Linked DNA regions of Homo sapiens: regions 2 and 3 are each reported to be linked to region 1. The links are microRNA targets in miRTarBase. Many come from high-throughput screens and were not tested one by one. Region 1 holds a microRNA gene; each other region holds the end of a gene's coding sequence.

What was found. The annotated mature microRNA hsa-miR-212-5p reads ACCUUGGCUCUAGACUGCUUACU and lies in region 1 at 3,699-3,721, opposite strand. An mRNA with a match to its seed (bases 2 to 7 or 8) in the 3' UTR can be bound and repressed. Matches are read on the target gene's strand: a 7mer-m8 pairs with bases 2 to 8, a 7mer-A1 pairs with bases 2 to 7 and ends in A, and an 8mer does both.
Region 2: miRTarBase lists UNC13A as a target of hsa-miR-212-5p. Seed matches in the 3' UTR shown: 7mer-m8 at 2,336-2,342 and 7mer-m8 at 3,016-3,022.
Region 3: miRTarBase lists ICA1L as a target of hsa-miR-212-5p. Seed matches in the 3' UTR shown: 7mer-m8 at 3,645-3,651.

What each region holds. Positions count from the first base shown.
Region 1 is chr17:2,046,630-2,054,527 of GRCh38, forward strand. It overlaps MIR212 (microRNA 212), which reads right to left and starts at 3,751; the gene lies at 3,642-3,751. MIR132 (microRNA 132) reads right to left here and starts at 3,379; the gene lies at 3,279-3,379. It overlaps LOC124903896 (a long non-coding RNA gene), which reads right to left and starts at 3,320. Exons shown (of 2, transcript XR_007065576.1): 1 at 2,532-3,320; 2 at 2,078-2,129. RefSeq lists silencers at 3,075-3,874, 3,885-4,034, 7,038-7,507 and an enhancer at 4,580-5,475.
Region 2 is chr19:17,600,379-17,608,276 of GRCh38, reverse strand. It overlaps UNC13A (unc-13 homolog A), which reads left to right. Exons shown (of 44, transcript NM_001080421.3): 44 at 1,923-6,941. The coding sequence ends at 2,223. Among named protein-coding and RNA genes, the nearest start is that of COLGALT1, 49 kb to the right of the region's middle. RefSeq lists silencers at 1,617-1,836, 2,207-2,466 and enhancers at 1,551-2,455, 2,456-3,360.
Region 3 is chr2:202,772,123-202,779,808 of GRCh38, forward strand. It overlaps ICA1L (islet cell autoantigen 1 like), which reads right to left. Exons shown (of 13, transcript NM_001288622.3): 13 at 1,054-7,526. The coding sequence ends at 7,411. It also overlaps the pseudogene PIGYP1. Among named protein-coding and RNA genes, the nearest start is that of ICA1L, 96 kb to the right of the region's middle.

The DNA.
Region 1 (7,898 bases):
TGGTCTTGAACTCCTGATCTCAAGTGATTCGCCCACCTCAGCCTCCCAAAGTGTTGGGATTACAGGTGTGAGCCACTGCACCCGGCCAGAAGAGCATTTATTGAGTAATAACTGTATACCAGACATTGTAATAAGCAAGAGCTTTAATGCGGCCTAATTTAGGGCCAGGTGCGATTGCTCATGCCTATAATCCCAGCACTTTGGGAGGCTAAGGCATGAGGATCAATTGAGCCCAGGAGTTCAGAACCAGCCTGGGAAACATAGTGAGACCCCCTCTCTACAAATAATTTAAAAGTTAGCTGGGTGTGGTGGCATGCACCTGTGGTCCCAGCTACTCGGGAGGCTCAGGTGGGAGGATCACTTGAGCCCAGGAGTTTTGAGGCTGCAGTAAGCTGTGATTGTGCCACTGTATTCCAGCCTGGGAGACAGAGCTAGACCCTGTCTCCAAAAAAAAAGAAAAAAAAACAAACTACAAAAATTGGCTGGGGGTGGTGGCACACACCTGTAGTCCTAACTACTCAGGAGGCTGAGACAGGAGAATTGCTTGAACCTGGGAGGCGGACGTTGCAGTGAGCCGAGATCATGCTACTGCACTTCAGCCTGGGCAACAGAGCAAGACTCCATCTCAGAAGAAAAAAACAAATAAAATTATATATATATAACACATATATATTTTATATATATTAGGCAATAAATATATATAGCTTAAACCTTACAACTTCATGTTTAATCTCACAACTTCATGAGGTAGGTACCATTATTATTATTATTATTTGAGACGGAGTGTCACTCAGCCACCCAGGCTGGAGTTCAGTGGCACGATCACGGCTCACTGCACCTCCGTCTCCTGGGTTCAAGTGATTCTAGTGCCTCAGCCTCCCAAGCAGCTGGAATTACTGGCAAGCACCACCATGGCTGGCTAATTTTTTGTGTTATTAGTAGAGACGGAGTCTGACCATATTGGCCAGGCTGGATTATTATTAAGACAGGGTCTACCTCTGTCACCAGGTGCAGGATCATGGCTCACTGCAGCCTCGACCTCTTCGGCTCAAGTGACCCTCCCGCTTCAGCCTCCTGAGTAGCTTAGCTGAGACTACAGGTGCCACCTATCACACTGGCTTTTTTTTTTTTAAGACATGGGGTCTCACTATGTTGCCCAGGCTGGTCTCGAATTTCTGGGCTCAAGCAGTCCTCCAGCCTCTGCCCCGCCCCGCAAAATGGTGTGATTACAGGCATGAGCCATGTCTCCCAGCCCTAAATAATGATTTTTTTTTTTTGAGACAGGGTCTCACTCTGTCATCCAGGCTGGAGTACAGTGGTGCAATCACAGCTCACTGCAGCCTCAACCTCCCAGCCTCAAGCAATCCTCCCACCTCAACTTCCCAAGTAGCTGGGACTACAGGTGTGCACAACTAATTTTCTTTCTTTTCTTTCCTTTCTTCTTTCCTTTCTTTCTTTTTTGTAGAGATGGGAGTCGCATTGTATTGCCCAGGCTGGTCTCGAACTCCTGGGCTCAAGAGATCCTCCCACCTATGCCTCCCAAAGTGCTGGGATTACAGGCGTGAGCCACTGTGCCCTGCCCTAAATGATTTCTAAGATGCTAAACAACCCTGACGTACGGTCAATCCTCTGGTTCTTTCCCCTCTGACCACATTCTGACCTCTTCTCAGAATATCCCAACCATTTCTGTTTTCCACCTCTGATTCCACCTTGGATTCCTAGAGCTCTTAGGAGAGAGAACCCCCTTAGCAAGGAACCTCTCAACAGCCCCAGGCCCAGAGTGAACCCGGGAGGCGGAGGTTGCAGTGAGCCGAGATAGTGCCACTGCACTCCAGCCTGGGCGACAGAGCGAGACTGTCTCAGAAGAAAAAAAATAAAAGTATATGTATGTATAACATATATATAATATAGATTATATATATATTAGACAATAAATATATATAGCCTAAAGCTCAAGGTGTACCCCCCACATCCCGTTCATTCTGCCTAAGTGCACAGAGCTGGGGTCCCCTCCCAACACCACCCCTTCACAAACATGTAGTAGCCTAACAGAATACTTAAGATCAAAATAACATTCTGCTGTTTTTGGATTTTTACTTACATGATCCTATTTAATCCTCACAGTGCACCTGCCGAGGAGAAGAGATTATTATCCCGTTTTACAGAAAGCTCAGAAACAGAATATGGCCCCTTAACCACCAGTTGCTGATAATGCCAGGTTGGACCTCTGGCTTCCCAGAGCACTACACCCAGCAGTCCACTGCAGTCCACCCACTGACATCCCCTGGAACCCAGAAGCAAGTGCGTTTTAATCTGCAAGACCTCGGGGCCCTGGGGAGGTGGGATGGCTAGCATGTGGGTGTTGATTAACTGGGAAACCGGCACGAGTGTCTTAGAAGTACTTCACAAAGGAGCCGGGTGGGGAGTGAAGGAGGGGGTGGGGCGTGAGACGTTAAGAAAAATTGGATTAACGTGTCGTGGGCTGGGTTGCATTAACCATTCCCAACACTATCTCTGGGGAAGTCTCACACCTGATATTCAATAGACATCCCCTGTAGTGGGTGATGTTGGCAGAGGCAGGCGACATATACAATAATATTTTTAGAGATCCTTGTTCACACTTCATCCGCACCAGAGGACTTCAGCCCCTGTGGTATTCACTCCTCTTTAGGGCTAATTTGAGAAACTGTCTCAGATTGGAATCCAGCACCTAGAGATAGGCTGAGGTGAGCAGGCTGATCTGTTCAGACGCTTCGCGGACCAGGTTAACTTTACAAGCTCATTGGCTTCCAGAGGGTTGGGGACCCTTCTTATCCTCCTAGCTCAGAGGGAAAGATTCAAGAGTTTACTCTTCGCCCAATGCCCACTTCAGCTAGGGGTTCCTGGAAGAACGGGGCTGTGGAGTATCTCAGAAAACTTTCCTCCCTCTACTGTCTTCAGGCCCCAGGAGACAAACCTCCTTCCAAGCCTCCTGGTCCCAGTGGCTTCCCTCTCACCGAAATCGAAAGAACCCGAGTCCCAGCCCGACCCCTTCTCTCGCCGAGCCCTGGCTGGGATACCTTGGCCGGGAGGACAGGACGGCCTCAGGCTGGCCGCCAGACGCACTCCGCAGGACGCGCGCGCTCGAGCCTCGGTGGACTCAGCCGCCGGCCCCGGGAGGCCGCCTCCCTGCGCAGCACCTCCTGCCACCCGCGCGGGCACGTGGGATCTTGACTCGCCGCCCCCGCCTCCTTCTGCTCCGCGTCCCCAGCCCGCGGCTCGGGGCGCGGCGTGGCGCGGCGCGTGGGCGTGCTGCGGGGCGACCATGGCTGTAGACTGTTACCTCCAGTTCCCACAGTAACAATCGAAAGCCACGGTTGCCCTGGAGACGCGGGGGCGGGGCGCGCGGACGGCGCCGGCGCGGGGCGGGCTGACGTCAGGGCCGCGGGGGGGCGGGCGGGGCGGCGGGGGCTGAGGAGCGCGCGTGGGCCACCGCCCCTCGCAGCCCCTAGGGACCCGGACGGGGCGGCCCGATGGCGGCGCCTGCGTTGATCAGCACCGCGGACAGCGGCGGCGCAGGCAGCGGGCCGGGGGCGGGGCCCTGAGGGACGGGGACTGGGGGTCCCCGGGCGCGGCGGCGGCGGCCGGGGCCGCGGTCCTGGGGCGGGGCCAGGCGTCGGTGGCCGTGACTGGAGACTGTTACTGAGGGCGGCCCGGGCAGTAAGCAGTCTAGAGCCAAGGTGCCGGCGCGCTGTCCGGGCGGGGTGCCCCGGTCGCCCCGGCTGCCCCGGCTGGGGGCTCTGCTGCTCCGCCTCCCCTGCGTCTCCCGCCCTGCCCCGCCCGGCGCTCGCGACCAGGCACGCGGCCCCTGACGTCAGAGGGCCGTGACGTCAAAGATGTCCCAGAGGGGGCACTTCCGGCGGGGGCGTGGGGGCGGGGCGGGACCTGGGAGGCCCCGCCCCCCCGGTCCTGAGAGGACAGCTCCGCTCGCAGAGGCGGGAAGCCGTGGGCGCCGCGGGACCCGCTGGACGGGACCTGCCGGGAAGGGGCGCCCGACGCCATGCGGGGCGGGGGTCCCAGGAGGGCCGGGGAAGCGGGGGTGGGCGTCCGTCTCTCGCCTGCACCCCCGCTCAGCCGGCCCGGGCAGCGAGGCTGAGTCACCGCGCCGCAGGGAGGGAGAGGAGGGGGCGCGTCTCCTGGGGCGCCAGCACCTTCGCCTCACTTTCCTGGGAGAATGGCGCAGGAGCCCCAAGAAAGCCGGGGGGGGGTCTCCGAGGTCGGTCCTCCACTCGATGCTCCTCCGAAGTAGCTGCGTGTCCATCGGGCGCCGGCAGGTGCTGCGCGGGCTCGTGTCGTCTCTGGCCCCGGCTCCGCAGCCGCGAGGGGACCCCGGTGCCCCCCGTCCGCCCCCATCCCCACCCCGGAGGGGCCGCCCCACCCGCCGCCTGCCCGTCCCCTCCTCGTCCTCCCGTCCGTGTCCGCACATCTGTCCCTCCGCGGCTGGTCCGTCCCGCTTACCTGGCGGGCCGCGTCGCCACTGCCCGGTCGCCTCCCGCAGCCTGGCCGGCGCGGCGGCTTTTATAGGCGCGCGTAGTACTCGTGCGGCGGCTCATTCATGCGGCCGCGGCTCCTACACACTGACGCGCTGCCGACGTCAGCGGGGAATTTAGGAAATGGGAAAAGGGGCTATTTATAGTGGCGAGGCGGGGGGTGGGGACCGAGGCGACCGGGAGGGGAGGAGGGGGCGCGGAAGCGGCGGCGGGGTAGGGGGAGCCGCGCCCCTGCCCAGCCGACAAGGGGTTAACTTTCCGGAACCGCGGGCCTGGGGCCGGGGAGGCGGCGCGGAGGGGCGCGGCGGGCCCTTCGAGCTTATTCACGCTCTCCTTCCGGAGCCCCGCGGCTCCTGGGGGTCTTCACGTGGCAGCCCCTTCCCCCTCCTCAGTTCCTGGACCTGACGTTTCTGCCGTCACACCCCGCAAGGCCACTGCGGTGTCGCCACCCTCTCGTCCTGCAGGGTGGGCAGGAGAGGAAGCTGGACTCCCGTGGGGGCCTGGGGCGCAGCGAGGGCTGTGGCGTCGGGGGCCGGGAGAAGAAGAGTAGGGGAGCCCAAAGTAGCCCAGGAGTCTTTAGCGGAGGAACCTGGGCCTGGGAGGGAAGGCCCAGCGGGGATTCAGGTACCACCCAGGAGCTGGAGACCCGAGGGACGGCAGAGAAGTTGGGGAAGGTGGGCCAACCTCCCCAGAAATGATGAGCAACGGGATCCTCTATGAGGGAGCTGGGGGAACGCGCCAGAGGTAGGGGTGAGAGGAATGGGCAGCCTCAGCAAGGGAGAGAGGAAAGGCTGTCAGTGCCACGCTCCAGAGCCTGGCATCCAGGACCCACCTTCGGACCATTTGTGGCACGATGGACGCTCCCAGAGCTCACGTTAGGGTAATAGAGAGTGAAGGAGACCAGCAGCTTGGCCAAGAGGGGCCCCCAGGGGATGAGGAGGACGGTTTCCTGGAGAAGTTAATGTTCCCGGAGACCAGAATTGGCAGGGAGAGCCCATGACTTGTGGGGCAGTTCCCCTGGTTGGGAGCGGGGAAATGCATGGTCCTGGCCCAGCCTGGCTCCATCGAGATGGAGGAAGGGTCTAAATGAGAGGAGTGTGTTCAGACGAGGAGCTGGACCAGGATGGGGAGGGCTGTGCAAGGCATGGCCGGAAGAGCGGGGCAGGGAGAGAAAGGTCGAAGAGTGAAGTGCACAGGAGGGCAAGGCGGTCCTCACCCTGCCTGGGCTGGGGCAGGGCTGTGAGACCCTCCCTTACAGAAGCAATGAGGGCTTGAGGAGGGGGTTAGGGGCCTGGGCTGGGGCAGGGCTGTGAGACCCTCCCTTACAGAAGCAATGAGGGCTTGAGGAGGGGGTTAGGGGCCTGGGCTGGGGCAGGGCTGTGAGACCCTCCCTTACAGAAGCAATGAGGGCTTGAGGATGGGGTTAGGGGCCTGGGCTGGGGCAGGGCTGTGAGACCCTCCCTTACAGAAGCAATGAGGGCTTGAGGAGGGGGTTAGGGGCCTGGGCTGGGGCAGGGCTGTGAGACCCTCCCTTACAGAAGCAATGAGGGCTTGAGGAGGGGGTTAGGGGCCTGGGCTGGGGCAGGGCTGTGAGACCCTCCCTTACAGAAGCAATGAGGGCTTGAGGAGGGGGTTAGGGGCCTGGGCTGGGGCAGGGCTGTGAGACCCTCCCTTACAGAAGCAATGAGGGCTTGAGGATGGGGTTAGGGGCCTGGGCTGGGGCAGGGCTGTGAGACCCTCCCTTACAGAAGCAATGAGGGCTTGAGGATGGGGTTAGGGGCCTGGGCTGGGGCAGGGCTGTGAGACCCTCCCTTACAGAAGCAATGAGGGCTTGAGGATGGGGTTAGGGGCCTGGGCTGGGGCAGGGCTGTGAGACCCTCCCTTACAGAAGCAATGAGGGCTTGAGGATGGGGTTAGGGGCAGTAAGTTAACTTGGGGAGCGGATGTGGGGGAACGCTGAAGAATAAAGACTGTGGGCACAGCAGACCCCTGGGGCAGGTTAGCAATGCACAGACTCCACTGCACAAGATACATGGGGCGGAGGGGCTCTTTGGAAGTCGGGGGTGGGGGATCTGACTCTATCAAAAAGAGAAAAGATAAAAGAGATGGGGTCAGAGAGGCCCTGCATAGTCTGGATTTGGCCTACTAGAGCTCCAGTTTTCTTGCCGCTAGCCTTTGTTCCAGGGATTCTGTTATTCACAAATGCCTTCCTGCTCGGTAGAAGAACTCCTATTCATCCGTCAAAGCCCAGCTCTAGGAGCACTTATGAGGAGCCTCTCCACCTCCCCTCAACACTCCGTAACTTCCACCTCAGGCCGCAGCACGTCCCTCGGGCGAGATGTCGGGGTCCGCCTTCCCTAGAGACCGGCAGCTCCGGAGGCCTCCGTTTTCCTCTTTGGGACCTCACTGCTTCTAAAGTGAGGATGCTATGGGGAGACATGGGAGAGGGAGTGGGTAAGATGGATCCAGAACATGGGGCGGACTCAGGCAGCGGCGGGAATCAGGCGGACTCGTTTGGACCGAAGCCTCCGCCAGGCACCGAAGCCGTGAAGTCGCCTGCGCAGCAAAGGGAGCCTCCGGGGGGCGCCCGAGACCTTGGTGTCGCTCGGGGGCCGCTGGTAGCCGCGCCCGCTGCCCCTCGCCCGGTGACTCAGCCGGTACCTCTGGCGGGGCCATGGGGGCCAGAGGACAGCGCGGGGGGCGGCGAGCGCGGTTGCTAAGCTCTCCAAGGCCTCGGAGGGACAGGATCTGGGCGCACCTCACCGGTTGCCATGGTAACGCAGCGCCCCAGCCCCTCGCGCTCCGCGGTGGAGGGAGGCGCAGCCAATCGGAAGCGGCGGAGTTCTCGGGGACCCCCCCCCCCCCCGCTCCACGCCGTGTGTGGGCGGGGGTCAGGAGGTGCGGGGCGGAGGCGGAGCGTGGGCCGCGGAGATCCGGCGTTCGCAGGAGGCTTGGTGCGCGGCGGGGCTGCACGGGGCCACTTCCGGAGTAGTACTGCGAGCAGCGGCGCGACAGTGCGGGGTCCCCTTTCTCCCAGAAGAGACGTCACCCACACAAACCTGACCTTCACGTGGGGCGCGGGACCTTGCGGGGTCCCAGCCGCAGGCGCCCCTGTTGTTTCCTTCGGGCGGGTGGGTTGGAGAAGAAGTCCACGCGGGATTCTTCAAAACGGCGTACAGGGGGATTCTAGGGCCCCATGGTTACTTCTTTGGACCCCCCGGAGGCGCTGTCCAGCCACTTCCAGTCGCCCTGATGACTCGTCGTGGGTTCCTTTAGGAGACCCGAAAGTTCAGGGCGGGCTGTGTGGGTAACACCTCTGCCCAGGTTCCCGGAGGGCCCTACGTGGCTGCCCCTGGAGTATCCCAGAGC
Region 2 (7,898 bases), not on the chromosome of region 1:
AGTATATATATTATATATTTCATATATTATATATTGTATATAATATAGTATATACAAAAAATATTAGCTGTGTGTTGTGGTGGGCGCCTGTAATCCCAGCTACGCGGGAGGCTGAGACAGGAGAATCGCTTGAACCCAGGAGGTGGAGGCTGCAATGACCCAAGATGGCGCTACTGCAGTCCAGCCTGGGCTACAGAGTGAGACTCAAAAAAATAAAAAATACAGAAATTAGCCGGGTGTGGTGGCAGGCGCTTGTAATCCCAGCTACTCCAGAGGGTGAGGGGTACGAGAATCGCTTGAACCCAGGAGGCACAGGTTGCAGTGAGCCATGATTGTACCACGGCACTCCAGCCTGGGCGACAGAGCAAGACTCTGCCTCAAAAAAAAAAAAAAAAAAAAAGTCTGTTCACGGGGGTAGATGGATGGTGGTGGTTAGCAAGGGTAGAGTTGGGGTCATCCGGGGTAGATCCTTGGGTCGAGTGTCAGCCTCACAGAGCACTGGGGCAGGGCAATGTTGTTGGATGTTCTTAGGAGACAGAAGTGCAGAAGAAAGTAGTCCCAGCTACCTGGGAGGCTGGGGCAGGAAGATCGCTTGAGCTCAGGAGTTTAAGGCTGCAATGAGCTATGATTGTGCCACTGCACTCCAGCCTGGGTGACCGACATAGCGAGACCCTGTCTTTAAAAAAACAAAAAACTATGGGCCAGGCGCGGTGGCTGACGCTTGTAATTCCAACACTTTGGGAGGCCAAGGCAGTGGATCACCTGAGGTTAGGAGTTCGAGACCAGCGTGGCCAACATGGTGAGACCCCCCCCCCCGCCACCCCCATCTGTACTAAAAACACAAAAAATCAGCCCGGTGTGGTGGTGCATGCCTGTAATCCCAGCTACTAGGGAGGCTGAGGCAGAAGAATCGTTTGAACCCGGGAGACAGAGGTTGCAGTGAGCCGCGATTGTGCCACTGCACTCCAGCCTGGGTGACAGAGGGAGATGCCCACTCAAAAAATAAAAATAAATAAAAATAAATAAAAATGCACAGGGGTAAGGGTAAATCAGAGCTGGTTAGCTGGTATTATCTAGGGGGCCTGGGAGCTCTTATGGGACAAGATTGAAGCCAGTTCCATGTCGTGTCAGCACAGGGCTCTTGGTCAGAAGGTTTTGGGGCGATTGGCCCCTTTAGGGGATACTCAGGAGGAGAAGCATGGTCTAGTGGGAGGTCAGATGTCAGCCAGGGTGGGCCGGAGTACTTCAGGGATAGAGGTACAACCTGGGAGGTGGACAAGAGGGAGAAGCTGGGCGTGACCCTGTAGGAGGGGCTCTTATCCAGCTGGCGTCAGGGCAGGTCACTGGGACTGCTTAGGGGCAGGAGCACAGGTGAGGGGCATGCGGGAGGCGGTGTCACCCATGGTGAGGCACCAGGGCAGGCTCATGTCTGGAGGGCATCTTGGAAGTAAGAGGGGTGGGCTGGGGGTGTGGGGGGCTGGGGAAAGGGCCACGTCGTGGGTCTAGAGGAGAGCCTGGTTAAAGAGCTTCTGGGTGGGACATTAGGGGCAGGGCCGTGCGGGCAGCAGTTCAGCCGGCAGAGGGCACAGGCGCGGGTATCTCAGGGTGGGAGCATGGCCTTGCAGGGCGGTGTCTGAGGGGCGGGAGCTGGATGTAAAACTATGCGGTCATTTTTCGGTGGGTGGAAAAATGGGAAGAACAGGCGTGGGCGTGGCCCAGCTCGGGGTCAGCTGCTGTGGGCGCGGCCAAGCACAGGGTTGTAGGTCAAGTAACGGGGCAGGGGCGGGGCTAGCGTAGCGTGGGAGGTGACAGGTGTGGGCACCCCGGTGTGGGCGTGGCCCGCAAATGCGGTGGGGACGGGGCCGTGGGCGGGGCATCACAGTAGGTGTGGCCTGTCTCACGTTCCGCCCCTCCCCACGCAGCACGCTGAGCGCCGACGCGGGTCCCGAGTGCTATGAGCTGCAGGTGTGCGTCAAGGACTACTGCTTCGCGCGCGAGGACCGCACGGTGGGGCTGGCCGTGCTGCAGCTGCGTGAGCTGGCCCAGCGCGGGAGCGCCGCCTGCTGGCTGCCGCTCGGCCGCCGCATCCACATGGACGACACGGGCCTCACGGTGCTGCGAATCCTCTCGCAGCGCAGCAACGACGAGGTGGCCAAGGAGTTCGTGAAGCTCAAGTCGGACACGCGCTCCGCCGAGGAGGGCGGTGCCGCGCCTGCGCCTTAGCGCGGGCGGTCGGCCGAGCGGCACTGCGCCTGCGCGGAGGGCGCTGGGCGGGGAGGGACGGGGCTTGCGCCTTGGTGGGACCTCCCCAGGGGCGGGGCTCGGGGGGCTCCACGCCAAGGGTGGGCTGCGCCTACGCCCTTGACTCAGCTTTCCCTTTTGGGGAATTAGGAATGGAGGATGCCCCGCCCTCTCGGGAGGCCACGCCCAAGGGCGCGACGAAGGAAGGAGCCACATCCCCAACTTGAGGCCACGCCCCCAGCACCTAGGGGGCATTTTGAGCTGGGATGGGGGAAACCTCGTCCCTATGGAGGAGGCCACATCCCGGGGCTCTGGTACCGGGAGGCACCACCTCATGTCCCCTGGAAAAGCCATAAGATGGGACCCAGACCCCTGGGACCCCAGACCAATTGCCAAGTATGGAAATCTCAGCTCCCTCGAGGGGGGGCCCTGGGCAAGGGGTAGGGCTCTCTGGAGCGCCCCTCTAGGTGGCCTGGGGACTGGAGGGACCAGGATGCTGGTTGGAGGGCCCCGGAATACCGGAGTCCCTTTAGATATTTGTGCAAAAAATAAATGGGGGGAGGGGGGAGGATGGGATTTCAAAAGCACATGCGCCCTTGGGCGCCCAAACCCTGGGGGCCGAGGGGACGGCTCTGGTTCCCCACGCTGCCCCTACTTCCCTTTGGGAGTTTGCCTCTCCCTCTCCCCCAACAAACCCAGTCCTCATATCATAGAGTTCAACACACCCATTTGACAGATGGCAAAACTGAGGCTTAAAGAGCTGCTTGAGACTTGGCCAAGGTTCCAGGTGCCATACCCTCTGTGCCCCTCCCTTAGGCCTGTGTGCCCCATGGAAGGGTGGGCTGAGATCGGGATGACCTGACACAGCTCCCTATTGCTGCTAATTCCCCCTCGGCCTCCTCCAAGGGGTGGGAATTCCAGGCCAAGACCCCTACTTCGCCTTTCCTTCTCCGGCTGCCAAGCAGGACCTTTGCCCTCAGCCCTTTCTCCTGGGATCTCCATGGGGGATGCCATGAGGGCCTCCCACCACAAAAGAGAATTTGGGATCCCCTGGTCCCAGGTTTCTCCATCCCTTCTTCCTTTTCCAGAATTTTCCAAATAGGAAAGAACAGAAGGAGACCAGAAACTCTAGGGGGGAGAAAGAGAATGAGAGAAAGAGAATGAGAGAGAGAGAAACACAAACACAGTGACACAGTGAGAGCTTAGTCTCCAAGAGCCTATTCATTGATTCAAACACCCAAGCCACAGGATACCTCAGATGGCCCTCTTGCCAGCTGGAAGCTCTTTCTCCAATGAGCAAAGTTACAGTGACCTGGCTGGAGTTACCTGGTGCACATAGGACCTTAGGGGAAAGTTCAGCGTGGACTACACTTGCTCTGGGATCTGCTTTTCCACATGTGTGTATGGCACGCCTTTTTCTGCTGGATTGGGAAGGACAAGATTTTGCTGTGCTAGGGAGAAATGAAAACGGGGTGAGCTGAGTAGCTGGGTTTCTGGAGGATAGAACATCAGATGGGGAGGCTTTCCGAGGTGAAGAATGAGAGGGAACCACTTACTAGAGAGAAAAGAGCTCCAGGCCTGGGGAACAGCACGTGCGAAGGCCAGGAGAGAAGAACTGTTGAAACAACGAGAAGGGTGGCACGGCTGGAGCTGAGCCAGCAAGGGGGATCGTGAGGAGCCTTGGGGTTGGGGAGATCTGCAGAAGCATCAGACCAGGCAGGGCCTCGTACGCAGTCCTGAGGAGTTTTACTTTTATTCTAAGACAGTTGGGGAGCTCCAGGAGCTGTTTTAAGTTGGGGAGAGACTGGATTCCAGCCTGCAAAAGCTGTTTTGTGAAGACTAAAACCAGTGAGGAGAGGTGGAGGTGCTTTGGGGACACTGAAATGGATTCTTGGAAAGATTCTGAAGGCTGTGTTGAAAAGACACCTATAGCTGTGGGGACATGACTATAATCCCAGCATTTGGGGAGACCGAGGCTGGCAGATCACTTAAGGTCAGGAGTTTGAGACCAGCCTGGCCAACATGGCGAAACCCCATCTCTGCTAAAAATACAAAAATTAGCTGGGTGCAGTGGTGCATGCCTGTAGTCCCAGCTACTCAGGAGACTGAGGCGGGAGAATTGTTTGAACCCTGGAGGCAGAGGTTGTAGTGAGTCGTGATCACACAACTGCACTCCAGCCTGGGCAACAGAACAATACTCCATTCCCTCCCCTCTACCCCACCAAAAAAAAAAAAAAATCCTGCCCTTAGATGAGCTCTAGGGCTGCTGAGTACAGTTGTCCCAGTTGCACAGTGCCCAAGGGTTTGGCATTGCTAAGAAGGCCACGTGCAAATCCTAGATATTGAGTGTTGTATGTTTGTGACGTTGGTTTCCCGACATGTGAATGGCCCAAGTGTCTGGAAGAAGTGGCGCCACTTTCTAATTTGCTTGGAGATGTTGCATGTCCCTTAAATTCAGACAGGTGCAGGTAACTGGAGGTTCTGAACCAAAGGTTAAAATGCAAATTCTCATACAGGGTTGGGAAGTTGTAGCCAGGGATAAGCTTATGTGACTGTTATATGGACTGAGGAGCAGATGTGAATTTCGAACCATGACATGGCTGAGGGTAGGGGTCGGGTGGATGGATGATTCAGGGTTGTAACCCATAGAGCCCAAAGGGGAAGTGATCTGTGACCTGGGGTGAGGGTGATCTGGAAGATTTTTGGATGGCTGGAAAGAAATGGGGAAGTCGAGCTGCCTGAGAGAGCCAAGTTATTTCCCAAAAGATTCCTTAGGAGTCTTTCTGTTCAAGACCTCCGTGTGTGTGTGTGTGTGTTTAGGGTTCCCCAGCAATGGCCCAGGCATGTGAAGGAAACAAGCTTCTTCAGGGAATATTTGTTGAATGAGTTTTCCTGACTCCCAGGCTAGAACTGTTTTTGCAATTTCCACCCTCTTTTCTTTCCCCCAGAGAACTCCTATTCGTCCTTCAAAACCCATCACGGAAACCCCTCTTGGAGAAAACCCTCCTTCCTTCCCCTCAGGACTTTCCCAGCCACCGTCTCTCCTCCAGTCCAGCCTGATGCCATGGGACTGGGGGTTTCTCTGTCCAGCTCTGTTTCTCCCAGACTGGGGTCTGAGGACTCTCAGGACCCCCAACTTTACCTAGCACAGGCTGGGCACAAGTGGGTGACAGGGAGTCTACGCCTAGTGGAATTATGTATTGGGGCAGGGTCAGTGTGAGAATACACATCCGCATGCATGTCTGTCCATGTCTGTCCGTACCAACCTTCCCCTTCCACACGGACCTGGGCACATAGGAGGTGTCTGAGCCTGACACATGGGACAGAGAGTGGACATGGCTGAGACACGGACAGAGAAAAGACAAGGAGTCCAGGGGGCTGAAAGCCTTTTGAAATCAGGAAGTTCCTGTATTGGCAGAACAAAGCCCAGAGAGGAGCAGGGCTTTCCTCAACGCCACCCAGCAAGTGGACACAGAGCCCGGCCTTGGATGACACCTCCAGGGTTCTGAACCCTGGACCTCGCTTTATGCAAGGAGCTGGCCCCACATTTCCATGAATCGGGGAAACAGCACAAGAAGGTTGGCCTGTGGCAGGGCAAGGGTTAAAGGGGTGACATTGAGGGATGCCTCAGAGTCAAAGTCCCCTGACCAAGAGGAATAGAGTAGAAAACACAGAGACAGAGGGTGAGATCACGCCCCGATGAGGACGGAGAGAGACAGAGATGGAGAGAGACATAGAGGTGGAAATATACAGAGAAAGATAAATGCAGAGACCAAGGCAGGGAGTGTCGGGGGAAGTAAAGAGGGTGTCCTGAAGAAAGAAGGATCTGTTCACTCTTACCAGTCTGTCCTCGAATGATTTGCATAAAATGAGGAGGTGCCTGTCCACACCCCCAATTCCTCTCTCAGGCCCCAGAGCCTGAGACCTCACCATGCCCCCATCAGAGATGCAAAAAACTAAACACCCAACTAGAAATCCTTGGGACCTCTCTCGGCTGGGATCTCAGAGCCTTTCTGTCCCCTACCCCTACCCCATGTGCTGTCGATTTTGCAGATGGGGACAACCTGGGGCCTCCCGGAACTCTGCCACCCTGGGGAAGTTGGGGGAGGGCCTTAGTCCCGGATCACAACCCCGTCTGCTCCCCAGAATCCTTTCCTAAGAATCGTTGAGGACCAAAGTTGTCTTTGCTGACACGTGTTGCTTTTCTCTTTGCCTTTTATTGTTTCAGAGAAAAATCAAGTTGACTGTGTCAAGTAACACCCCACCCCTTACCCCCGTCCAGCCATAGTGGCTCTCTGGAGACACAGGTCACAGGCGGAGGGTCCCCTGATCATCCCCAACCACACAGCCAGGGGGACTTGACCCCTGTCCACCCCTGTCTCGTGCTCCCTCAGACCCCCACAAACCGGCCAAGCAGTCCGGGGAGGCTTCCCCTCCACACAACTCTTAGCATGTGATTGCAGATGTGAAATCAAAACGTTGTTTGTTTTTTGTTTTGTTTTGATTCTACCCCGTCGGTCCAGTGTCTGCACAGACGCCTTCATTTCTCTGTAAATATGTGACTTGGAACAAATGTTTAACACAAACGAGAAGTGGTCATGAATGCATGGTGTTGAGATGTTTTGCACTATTCTGACTTTTTGGTCTCTGTAAAAATATTTTATTAACAGCAGACATTAAAAAAAGAAAAACCACACACAGCCTTGGACACGTGGTTGCCTCCTCCTTGCATTCCTTTATCAGCAAAAAAACAAAAACAAAAACCTCACGTACGATTAGCACCTACTAGGTAGGCGCAGACTCAGTAGAACACACTGCTTGCCCATGAACGCGGCTCATCCGCAACTGGAGTCATCCCCATTTTACAGAGAAGGAAACTGAAGTACAGAGAGACAAGATCTTGCTCAGATCACATAGCCAGGAAGAGATGGAGCTGGGACTTGAACTCAGAACATTTGCAACCATTGCTTTTTTTTTTTTTTTTTGAGATGAAGTCTCTGTTGCCCAGGCTGGAATGCAGTGGTGCAATCTCAGCTCACTGCAATCTCCACCTCCCAGATTCAAGCGATTCTCCTGCCTTAGCCTCCTGAGTAGCTGGGATTACAGGCGCCCGCCACCTTGCCTGGCTAATTTTTGTATTTTTAGTAGAGATAGGATTTCACCATGTTGGCCAGGCTGGTCGCGAACCCCTGACCTCAGGTGATCCACTCCCTCGGCCTCCCAAAGTGCTGGGATTACAGGCGTGAGCCACCGCACCCGGCCATCTGTTGCCCTTAAGGAAGTTAAGATACAAACACTAGGAATACATGCCCTTAATTCAACCCACACCCCCATGCTTGTTTGGTTTTGTTGGGTTTTTTGGGATCTTCTTGTTTGTTTGTTTTTGAGACAGGGTCTTGCTCTGTCACCCAGGATGGAGTTCAGTGTCACAATCTCAACTCACTGCATCCTCAACCTCCCAGGCTCAGGTGATCCTCCCACCTCAGCCTCCTGAGTAGTGTGCACCACCACACCTGGCTAATTTGTGTATTTTTTGTAGTGATAGGATGTCGCCATGTTGCCCAGACTGCTCTCGAACTCCTCACTTTGGGCAATCCTCTCTCCTCAGCCCTCCAAAGTGTTGGGATTACAGGCGTGAGCCACTGTGCCTGGCCATG
Region 3 (7,686 bases), not on the chromosome of region 1:
TACCCTAATCTTTATAATAACCCTTTGAAGCCAGGTACTGCTATTTTTACTATCATACAGATAACAAAATTGGAATTAGGTTGACTTTTCCATGGTCACACAGCTGGGAAACGTCAGAGACTGGCTTTGAACCAAGTCTGACTCTGGAATTCAGAGTTAATCATGTAGTCTTACTGCTACTTTGCTTGCACCAGTGACGCTGGTAAAATAAAGATGTTGGAGTCATTGCAGATTATGTGACATTGGGCCACACGGCCTGGTTCTTTGTGATCCTCTTCATTGCTACAGCTGCTGGCAGCTTAGTTCAGAGGGTCAAAAGAAAGGAGCTGGTTAGTTATCGGCTCCTGATCAAGGATGTTAGTGACACATTCTCAAACTCTCTGGTTTTTAATGTTGCTATAGCTGCAGAAAATAAAAAGAAATACTCTTTAATTTGGGGAGCACATGTTTTAGAGAGGCGAAAACGAACTTCAGTCACATTTCTGGTGGGTTTTTAATTCACCTGGCTTTTTTGAGGGAAAGACTTATATAGTTGGTTTTTTGCTCAGGCTGGAGTGCAGTGGGCAATCGCGGCTCACTGCAAGCTTCACCTCCTGGGTGCAAGCGATTCTCCTGCCTCAGCCTCCCCAGTAGCTGGGATTACAGGCGCCTGCCACCAGGCCCGACTAATTTTTGTATTTTTAGTAGAGACGGGGTTGCACCATGCTGGCCAGGCTGGTCTCAAACTCTCGACCTCAGGCAATCTGCCTGCCTCGGCCCTCAAAGTGCTGGGATTACAGGCTTGAGCCACCTCACCCGGCCTATAATTGGTTTTTAAATCTCTGTGACTTGGCATGCCCATTTAAGAGAGAGGGGACAGTAAAATCATCCGGATCACAATTCAAATGTGTGCTTGAAGGCACTACAAAAAAATAACCAAAAATATGTTAGTAGTGGTTATTCCTAGATGGTAGTGCTATGGCTGATTTTTTTCTTTCAGAAGATATTACTTTAAAATGGGAAAAAAGAAACAACTTTTTATTTTTTTAAATTTTTTATGAGAAAGTGTCAACATCTTTATTGCTAATATAAGCATTTAATGTCAAAGAAATGAAGGTAATTTTACAAACTAAATTTTTGTAAGTACATGAAATTTCTATTTGATTATGTGGTTTTATATCACATTCGTTCAAATGCATTTCTTTCCCTTAGAGGGACTATTCCAACATCACTCCTTTGGAATTATTTCAGTCATCCCTAACATGTGACTACCAAAGACCTTGAAGCTAAACAAACAAAGAAAACAAAATTTCAATGACTCTTAGATGAATGGAATAAGAAGTAGTCATCACATGTCAATTAGGGATGTTTATCTCCAACAAGACACTGTCAAAATGTTTCTTCTGATAAAGCAGTTATGTCAGAGCCTTCAAAAAACACGGGCAGAACAAGAGTACAATAAAAGAAGCGTCTGCAACTTAAGCCGTCCACAGTCCTAAGCCTGATATGCTCAAAGCAAAGCCTCTTTCCCACAAACTAAATTCCATCCATTTGAGCTTTCAGAGATAGATGCCCAAGAGCTATCATTAATATATACAGCATATTGACTCTAGTTGCATCAGTTATGCATGAAGAGTTTAATAACCATCCAGGTCCAAAGGTGGAAGAATACATACACCGGTATGGTAATAGGCAAGAGCAGGCTGTAAAAGCAAAGGCTAGCTGTGCAAGTGCAGCCCTGTGGGAAGTTTTCTTCTACAGAGGCTGAGTGGAACAGTCCTGCTAAATAAACCAGTGGAATAAGAACAGTCAACGTAGAAAGAGACAGAAAGATTCTTCTCTTCCGCTTATTACTTGCCACTGTGTTTTAAAAGGTATATGGTACTAAGAAGAGTTGGCTGTTTTATTTTTTTAAATTATGAACTAGCGCTGCTCCACTTCTTGCTTCTTTGATGTGTCATCCTAGCTGCCTAATATGATAATATTAGGAATCCCATCAATGATTGGATAAGCTATTCTCAACTCTTCATTAATCAATTCATTTGTTGATGCTTCATATCTGAGCGGCTTCTTGGAGAGCGGGCACACCAGGAACTCCAGCAGCGCCGGATCGAAGGCGCGGGGCGGCTCCTGAGTCTTCTCGCTCCTGTCGGCCAAAGGCCGTGACCCCGACGCGTGCAGGCACCTACGGGCGACCGCGGACGGCGGCGCGCGCGTTCCCCGCAGCGCTGAGGCGAGCCTGCCGCGCGCTCCGCTCAGCGTGGTCTGGCAGCCGGAGACCAGGCCTCACTGCGCCTCCAACAGCCAGGGTCGAGCCCCTGGCTCCCCGTTCGTCCAGGCCAGCTCAAGAAACAACTTTTTCTTTCATGTTTTTTGTATGTGTTTTTTTAGGTTATGGTCAGTGAGGTTTAGCCACAAGAGATATCACAGGAGAGACACAGGAAAAAAAGTTGTAATATACTCACAGGTCCTAGAGAGACCAGTCACTGCATGCTGAGAGGGGGTCACATGGGAGGGGGCTCAGCCAAGCAGGTGGGGAGCGGAGAGGCCTAAGACATGGGCAGGAGCCTTTGGGTCAGGGAGAAGCACACAAGAAAAAGAGAATTTCACTGGTGCATTTAAATGTTACTAGGTCATGGGCAAGGTAGCAAGGGAAACTTGTGGCAGGGGCCACCCATATCACACTGGGCCAGGTGCTCACAGCCTGTTTGTGGAGATGTTGAGGCAGCAAGAAAACCGGAAGTTTAAAACGTACACTACAAATGTAAAAACATACACTGCAAAATCTCACCCACAACACCAGTCAGAACTTCATCTCCTTTTTGTATTTACTCTTTGGCCAATGAGTAGTTAATTTACACCACTGAGTGAAGAACCATGTTTTGACTTTAAATGCCAAGGACAGTTTGTTTTGAACTCTTTAGTAGTCTTTTAAATGGTACAGAAAAAGATGGAAAAATAGCTTATGTTGGGCTTCTGGATGTGACCCATCTTTACCAACCATTTTTCTTATCTTGTCCCTTAGTTTTCTTTGCCATGTTTAAGCACTTTACTGTTGCATGAAATGCATTACTTTCAGTTCTACTAAATTAATATTTTAAAGTTCGTTTTTCCTTCCTAATTTCTATATTCCAAAATTCTGGGACTGCTTCATTGCTCAAGGTAGAGAAATGCAGGGCCCTGCCAACACTATGGAAGACAAAAATAACTGAATCAATTCTGGCTCTCTTCTTTTTATTCCTGCCTTCAATAAGTCAGGTTACATACTATGGCTTATATTTAATTGTTTGTGTCTAGGCTCAGATTTTTGATATTTGTTAGTTTTTGTTACTGAAAGTATTTACATAAATAACGTACATTATATTATTTCCCATATCTTACATAGTCCCCTTGTATATGAAATAAGAACGAATTCATCTCACAAGGATTTTCTTTTGAGACGGAGTCTCACTCTGTCACCCAGGCTGGAGTGCATGGCCTGATCTCAGCTCACTGCAACCTCCACCTCCCGGGTTCAAGCGATTCTCCTGCCTCAGCCTCCCAAGTAGCTGGGATTACAGGCATCTGCCACCATGCCCAGCTAATTTTTATATTTTTCATAGAGATGGGGTTTCACCATGTTGGCCAGGGTGGTCTCAAACTCCCAACTTCAAGTGATCTGCCTGCCTTGGCCTCCCAAAGTGCTGTTATATAGGCGTGAGCTACCGCGCCTGGCCTTACAAGGATATTAATTGCCCTGGTTTTATTTTCGTTCTCCCATGTCCGTATCAACTCAATGTACTTTCCTAATACTATGATCTTGAGGTAAAACCCAAGTTTTTGAATAGGAAAACAATAATTGTACTAAAAACTTCAGGAAACAAACTCTTGTTTTATGCCTTCTTGCAATCTTTATTAAAAGAGGCTCAGAAAAATAGATAGAGCACATGTAAACTTCCTTCGTTCTAATGCTGTAAGACCTCTACATTTCTAGATGGTCTATACAGATACGTGAAATATTTATAGTTAAAATACAAAACACTTTTTCAGTGTGCAAATACTGAAACCTGTTTGTTGAAATACAGTTTGTTTCTAATCATATCAAGGTTCTACAATTAATGAAGGATTTCAAAAACATACAAAATTACACCAATCTGATCTTATTATGCCCTGGTATTCCTGCGTCTCCTAAAAAATGGTTGTAGACACACTAGGCAAAGTTTAGCTCGTCTGGTTTTTTTTAGACTTAAAACACATTTTTATCCAGTATAACATAAAGTATAGATATTTCTCCCCATTTAACATAAAAAATATCTATTTTGAGGGTTGTTCTCAGCCTACCATTGGTTAAGGATAATTAATTTACTTCTTATTGAATGGATTATCTAGATTGAGACAAAAAGCAACCAGTCATTCTCTGTTCTGTGCTTATCCCGTCCTTTCCCTCGTTTCTTCAGTGTGGTGGTTTTTTATATTAGCAGTATTGGTTTAATAGAGCAAAATTTCTTTCTGACCACAAAAACTGCTGAGCTTCAAATAACTAATCTTGAGAAAATACGAATGTGGTTACCTTCATCTTAATATAGTTACTGATATGCTCTTCAAAAACAGTGGTTGGACTTGTTGGAAGTTAGAACTGGACTTGCTAAGGAAGTTAATGTTGCTCTGGGTTAAATGGGAAACATATACTCTGTTGAAAGAAGAAATGTTATAGAAACTAGTAACAGAATAATAAAAGTCCCTTGTATGTCTCCATTTCGGGAGAACTTTTGCTTTTGGAAAATTTAGGGTGTTCCTAGTATGGACTTTGGGTTTCTGCTTTGTCTGCTTGTTAAAGTATCTGTATTCGATAACAGGGACTTCCTTGCACACATGTGAGGGAGATAAATATCTCAGAACTAATGCATTAGCAAGGTGACCACTACAAAGAAAAATGGTACAAACTCTCAAGACATAAAGTTAGCTTTTTTTTTTTTTTTTTTTTTTTTTTTTGAGAGAGTCGCTCTCTGTTGCCCAGGCTGGAGTGTAGTGGTGCAATCTCGACTCACTGCAACCTCTGCCGCCTGGGTTCAAGCAATTCTTCTGCCTCAGCCTCCTGAGTAGCTGGGATTACAGGCATGTACCTCCACACCTGGCTAATTTTTGTATTTTTAGTAGAGACAGGGTTTCACCATGTTGGCCAGGCTGGTCTCGAACTCATGCCCTCAAATGTTCCACCCGCCATGGCCTCCCAAAGTGCTGGGATTACAGGCGTGAGCCACCATGCCCAGCCAAAGTTTTAGCATTTTTTGAGGCACTCAAAAGTTGAGAGCATCAGAGTCACCATGGGTATAGAATTCAGATTGGGATTCGTAATCATGATCTTGGTGATTGGAACTTGGCAGAACAGTGACAGTATTACATTCTGGGAAATTTCACTGAGTATAAAGGAAGACTTAAGTCTTCTGAAGAGATAAGTAATGGCTCATTAAAATCTAAAAGAAATAGGAGTAATATTGTGAAAAGATTTTATGGAAAGACTTCATACCTTTTTTCTGAGTCAATGTTTCTGACCTTCAGATAAGGTCTTTCCAGCCTATACTGTACTTGGCCATTGTAGTAGTTTTCTGGAGAGCCTGTGGGCAGTTACTATTGTAGATGGCTATGGATGGGACATGGACTGCATTTTACCTACTCTGGTCCAATGTTTTCTATGTACCATGACAAACATTACAAGCAATCCTTTTCTAAATAAGCCTGTTTAGAATAGAACTAAGAGCACATGGAAGCTACTGTGAATAACTTAGTTAAAATGTCTTTTTTTTTTTTTTTTTTTTTTGAGACGGAGTCTTGCTCTGTTGCCTAGGCTGGAGTGCAGTGGCGCCATCTCAGCTCACTGCAAGCTCCGCCTCCCGGGTTCACGCCATTCTCCTGCCTCAGCCTCCGGAGTAGCTGGGACTACAGGCACGTGCCACCACGCCTGGCTAATTTTTTGTATTTTTAGTAGAGACGGGGTTTCACCATGTTAGCCAGGATGGTCTCCATCTCCTGACCTCGTGATCCGCCTGCCTCAGCCTCCCAAAGTGCTGGGATTACAAGCGTGAGCCACCGCACCCAGCCAGTCAAAATGTCTTCTTATGGAAATGCAATGGACTGGATGACAAATATAAAACAAACACACACTTGGGAAATTGCTTCAAAATTAAAGGGTGGGCAATTTAAAAGGACAGGAAATTGAGTGATTGATGTGTGTGTACGGTAGCTACGTTTTTATCAGCTTACACTAACTTCCATTAAATAGCCTTCCTCTCTAATACTTAGGTTCTAAACCCTGTAGGGGTAACAGATTTTGCTTAGTAATCAAATAGAACCTCAGATCATGTCACCCACAGAAAGAGGGAAGTAGAAAAATGAGACACTCCCTTATTGATCACACAGAGCTTTCTGTATGTCTGCCAGAAAGTATTCTGGGTTAAATAATTATGTCACAAAATATGAGATAAGTATGCAAATATATGTAAGGATAAGGTGTTCATAAGTGTCTCCCTCATTCAGATAGAAATTTCTAGGTATTTCAGGAATACTATTGCCAGTTGCTTAGGGAATATTCTCCCCTCATTTTATTTTCAGGAATAATATAAATACTGCATACTACTATATAGCAAGTGTATGAAAAAGTGGGTCTGAAGACACTTGTACAAGCCTTAAGTATTACTGTGCATTCTGAGTTTTAGGAGATGGGAAGATAGATTTTTCTGTTTCTGCAGAGGATGGGCTTAGCAAATTAATTATCCTGCTACTTCCCCTTCAAGATTTAATAATGGAATTAGGGAGTGTCCATTATTTTGTATGAATGAAAAAACATTACATTTTAGCCTCCAAATGAAGAAAAACAAGTACCAAGTTTCTCTGTGATTTCATTAAAGCAAACTGAGTTCTCAAATCTTACTCTCTCTAACCCAAAACAAAGCTGGTCTGGTTCTAATGGTGTTTTCCAAAACAGAAAATCCTCCTCGCTACTATTTCATTTAAAAACTGACCCCAAACCACAACCCAATTTACATGCTATCTATCTATCTTTGTTATCCACATATAAAATTCTCACAGCCAGCAAGGCAACTTAAAAGGGTTTCCAAAGAAATAAGCTCAACTCCATATTGACAGAATTATTCCTAGCCGTTATTTTGACATAAATTTCAGTATCTAAATATCGCAAACTCTGTAGTTTCTAATATTTTCCACATAGAAGTTTCTAATATTTTCCACATAGTACCAACAGCTGCAAATCCAAGATATGAAAGATGTGTACTTATTCAAATGTGGTCTTTACCATCTGTCTAAAGTTGGCTGACAGGTGTTATATTCACAAACACCGTGCTTTTGTGTGCGGGTTACAATCTAAATCCTTTCCACGAAGGAAATACGTTGCAAAATTGATGTCTCAAGGCCACTGAAGTGACATTATAACTTCAGTCAAGCATTAAGAAGTTCATCATCTGAGTGTCCAATAGCATCTGGGTTTGAAAGTGGATCCAAGTCTGCAAACAGATTGAACCAGGCTGACATGTCTTGGTTGCCATTGTTGGGGGCTATTAAAAAAGAAAAAAAATACATTAAAGAGATTCAGTTTTGAAATCATGTTTTTGTACCATATTTATGATTTTGAAGTAGGTGCTTCTTTTGGATTAAGAAAAAATTAAGATAACTGACAATAATCTATCAACTATAGTCCCTTTAAGATTTTTTTTT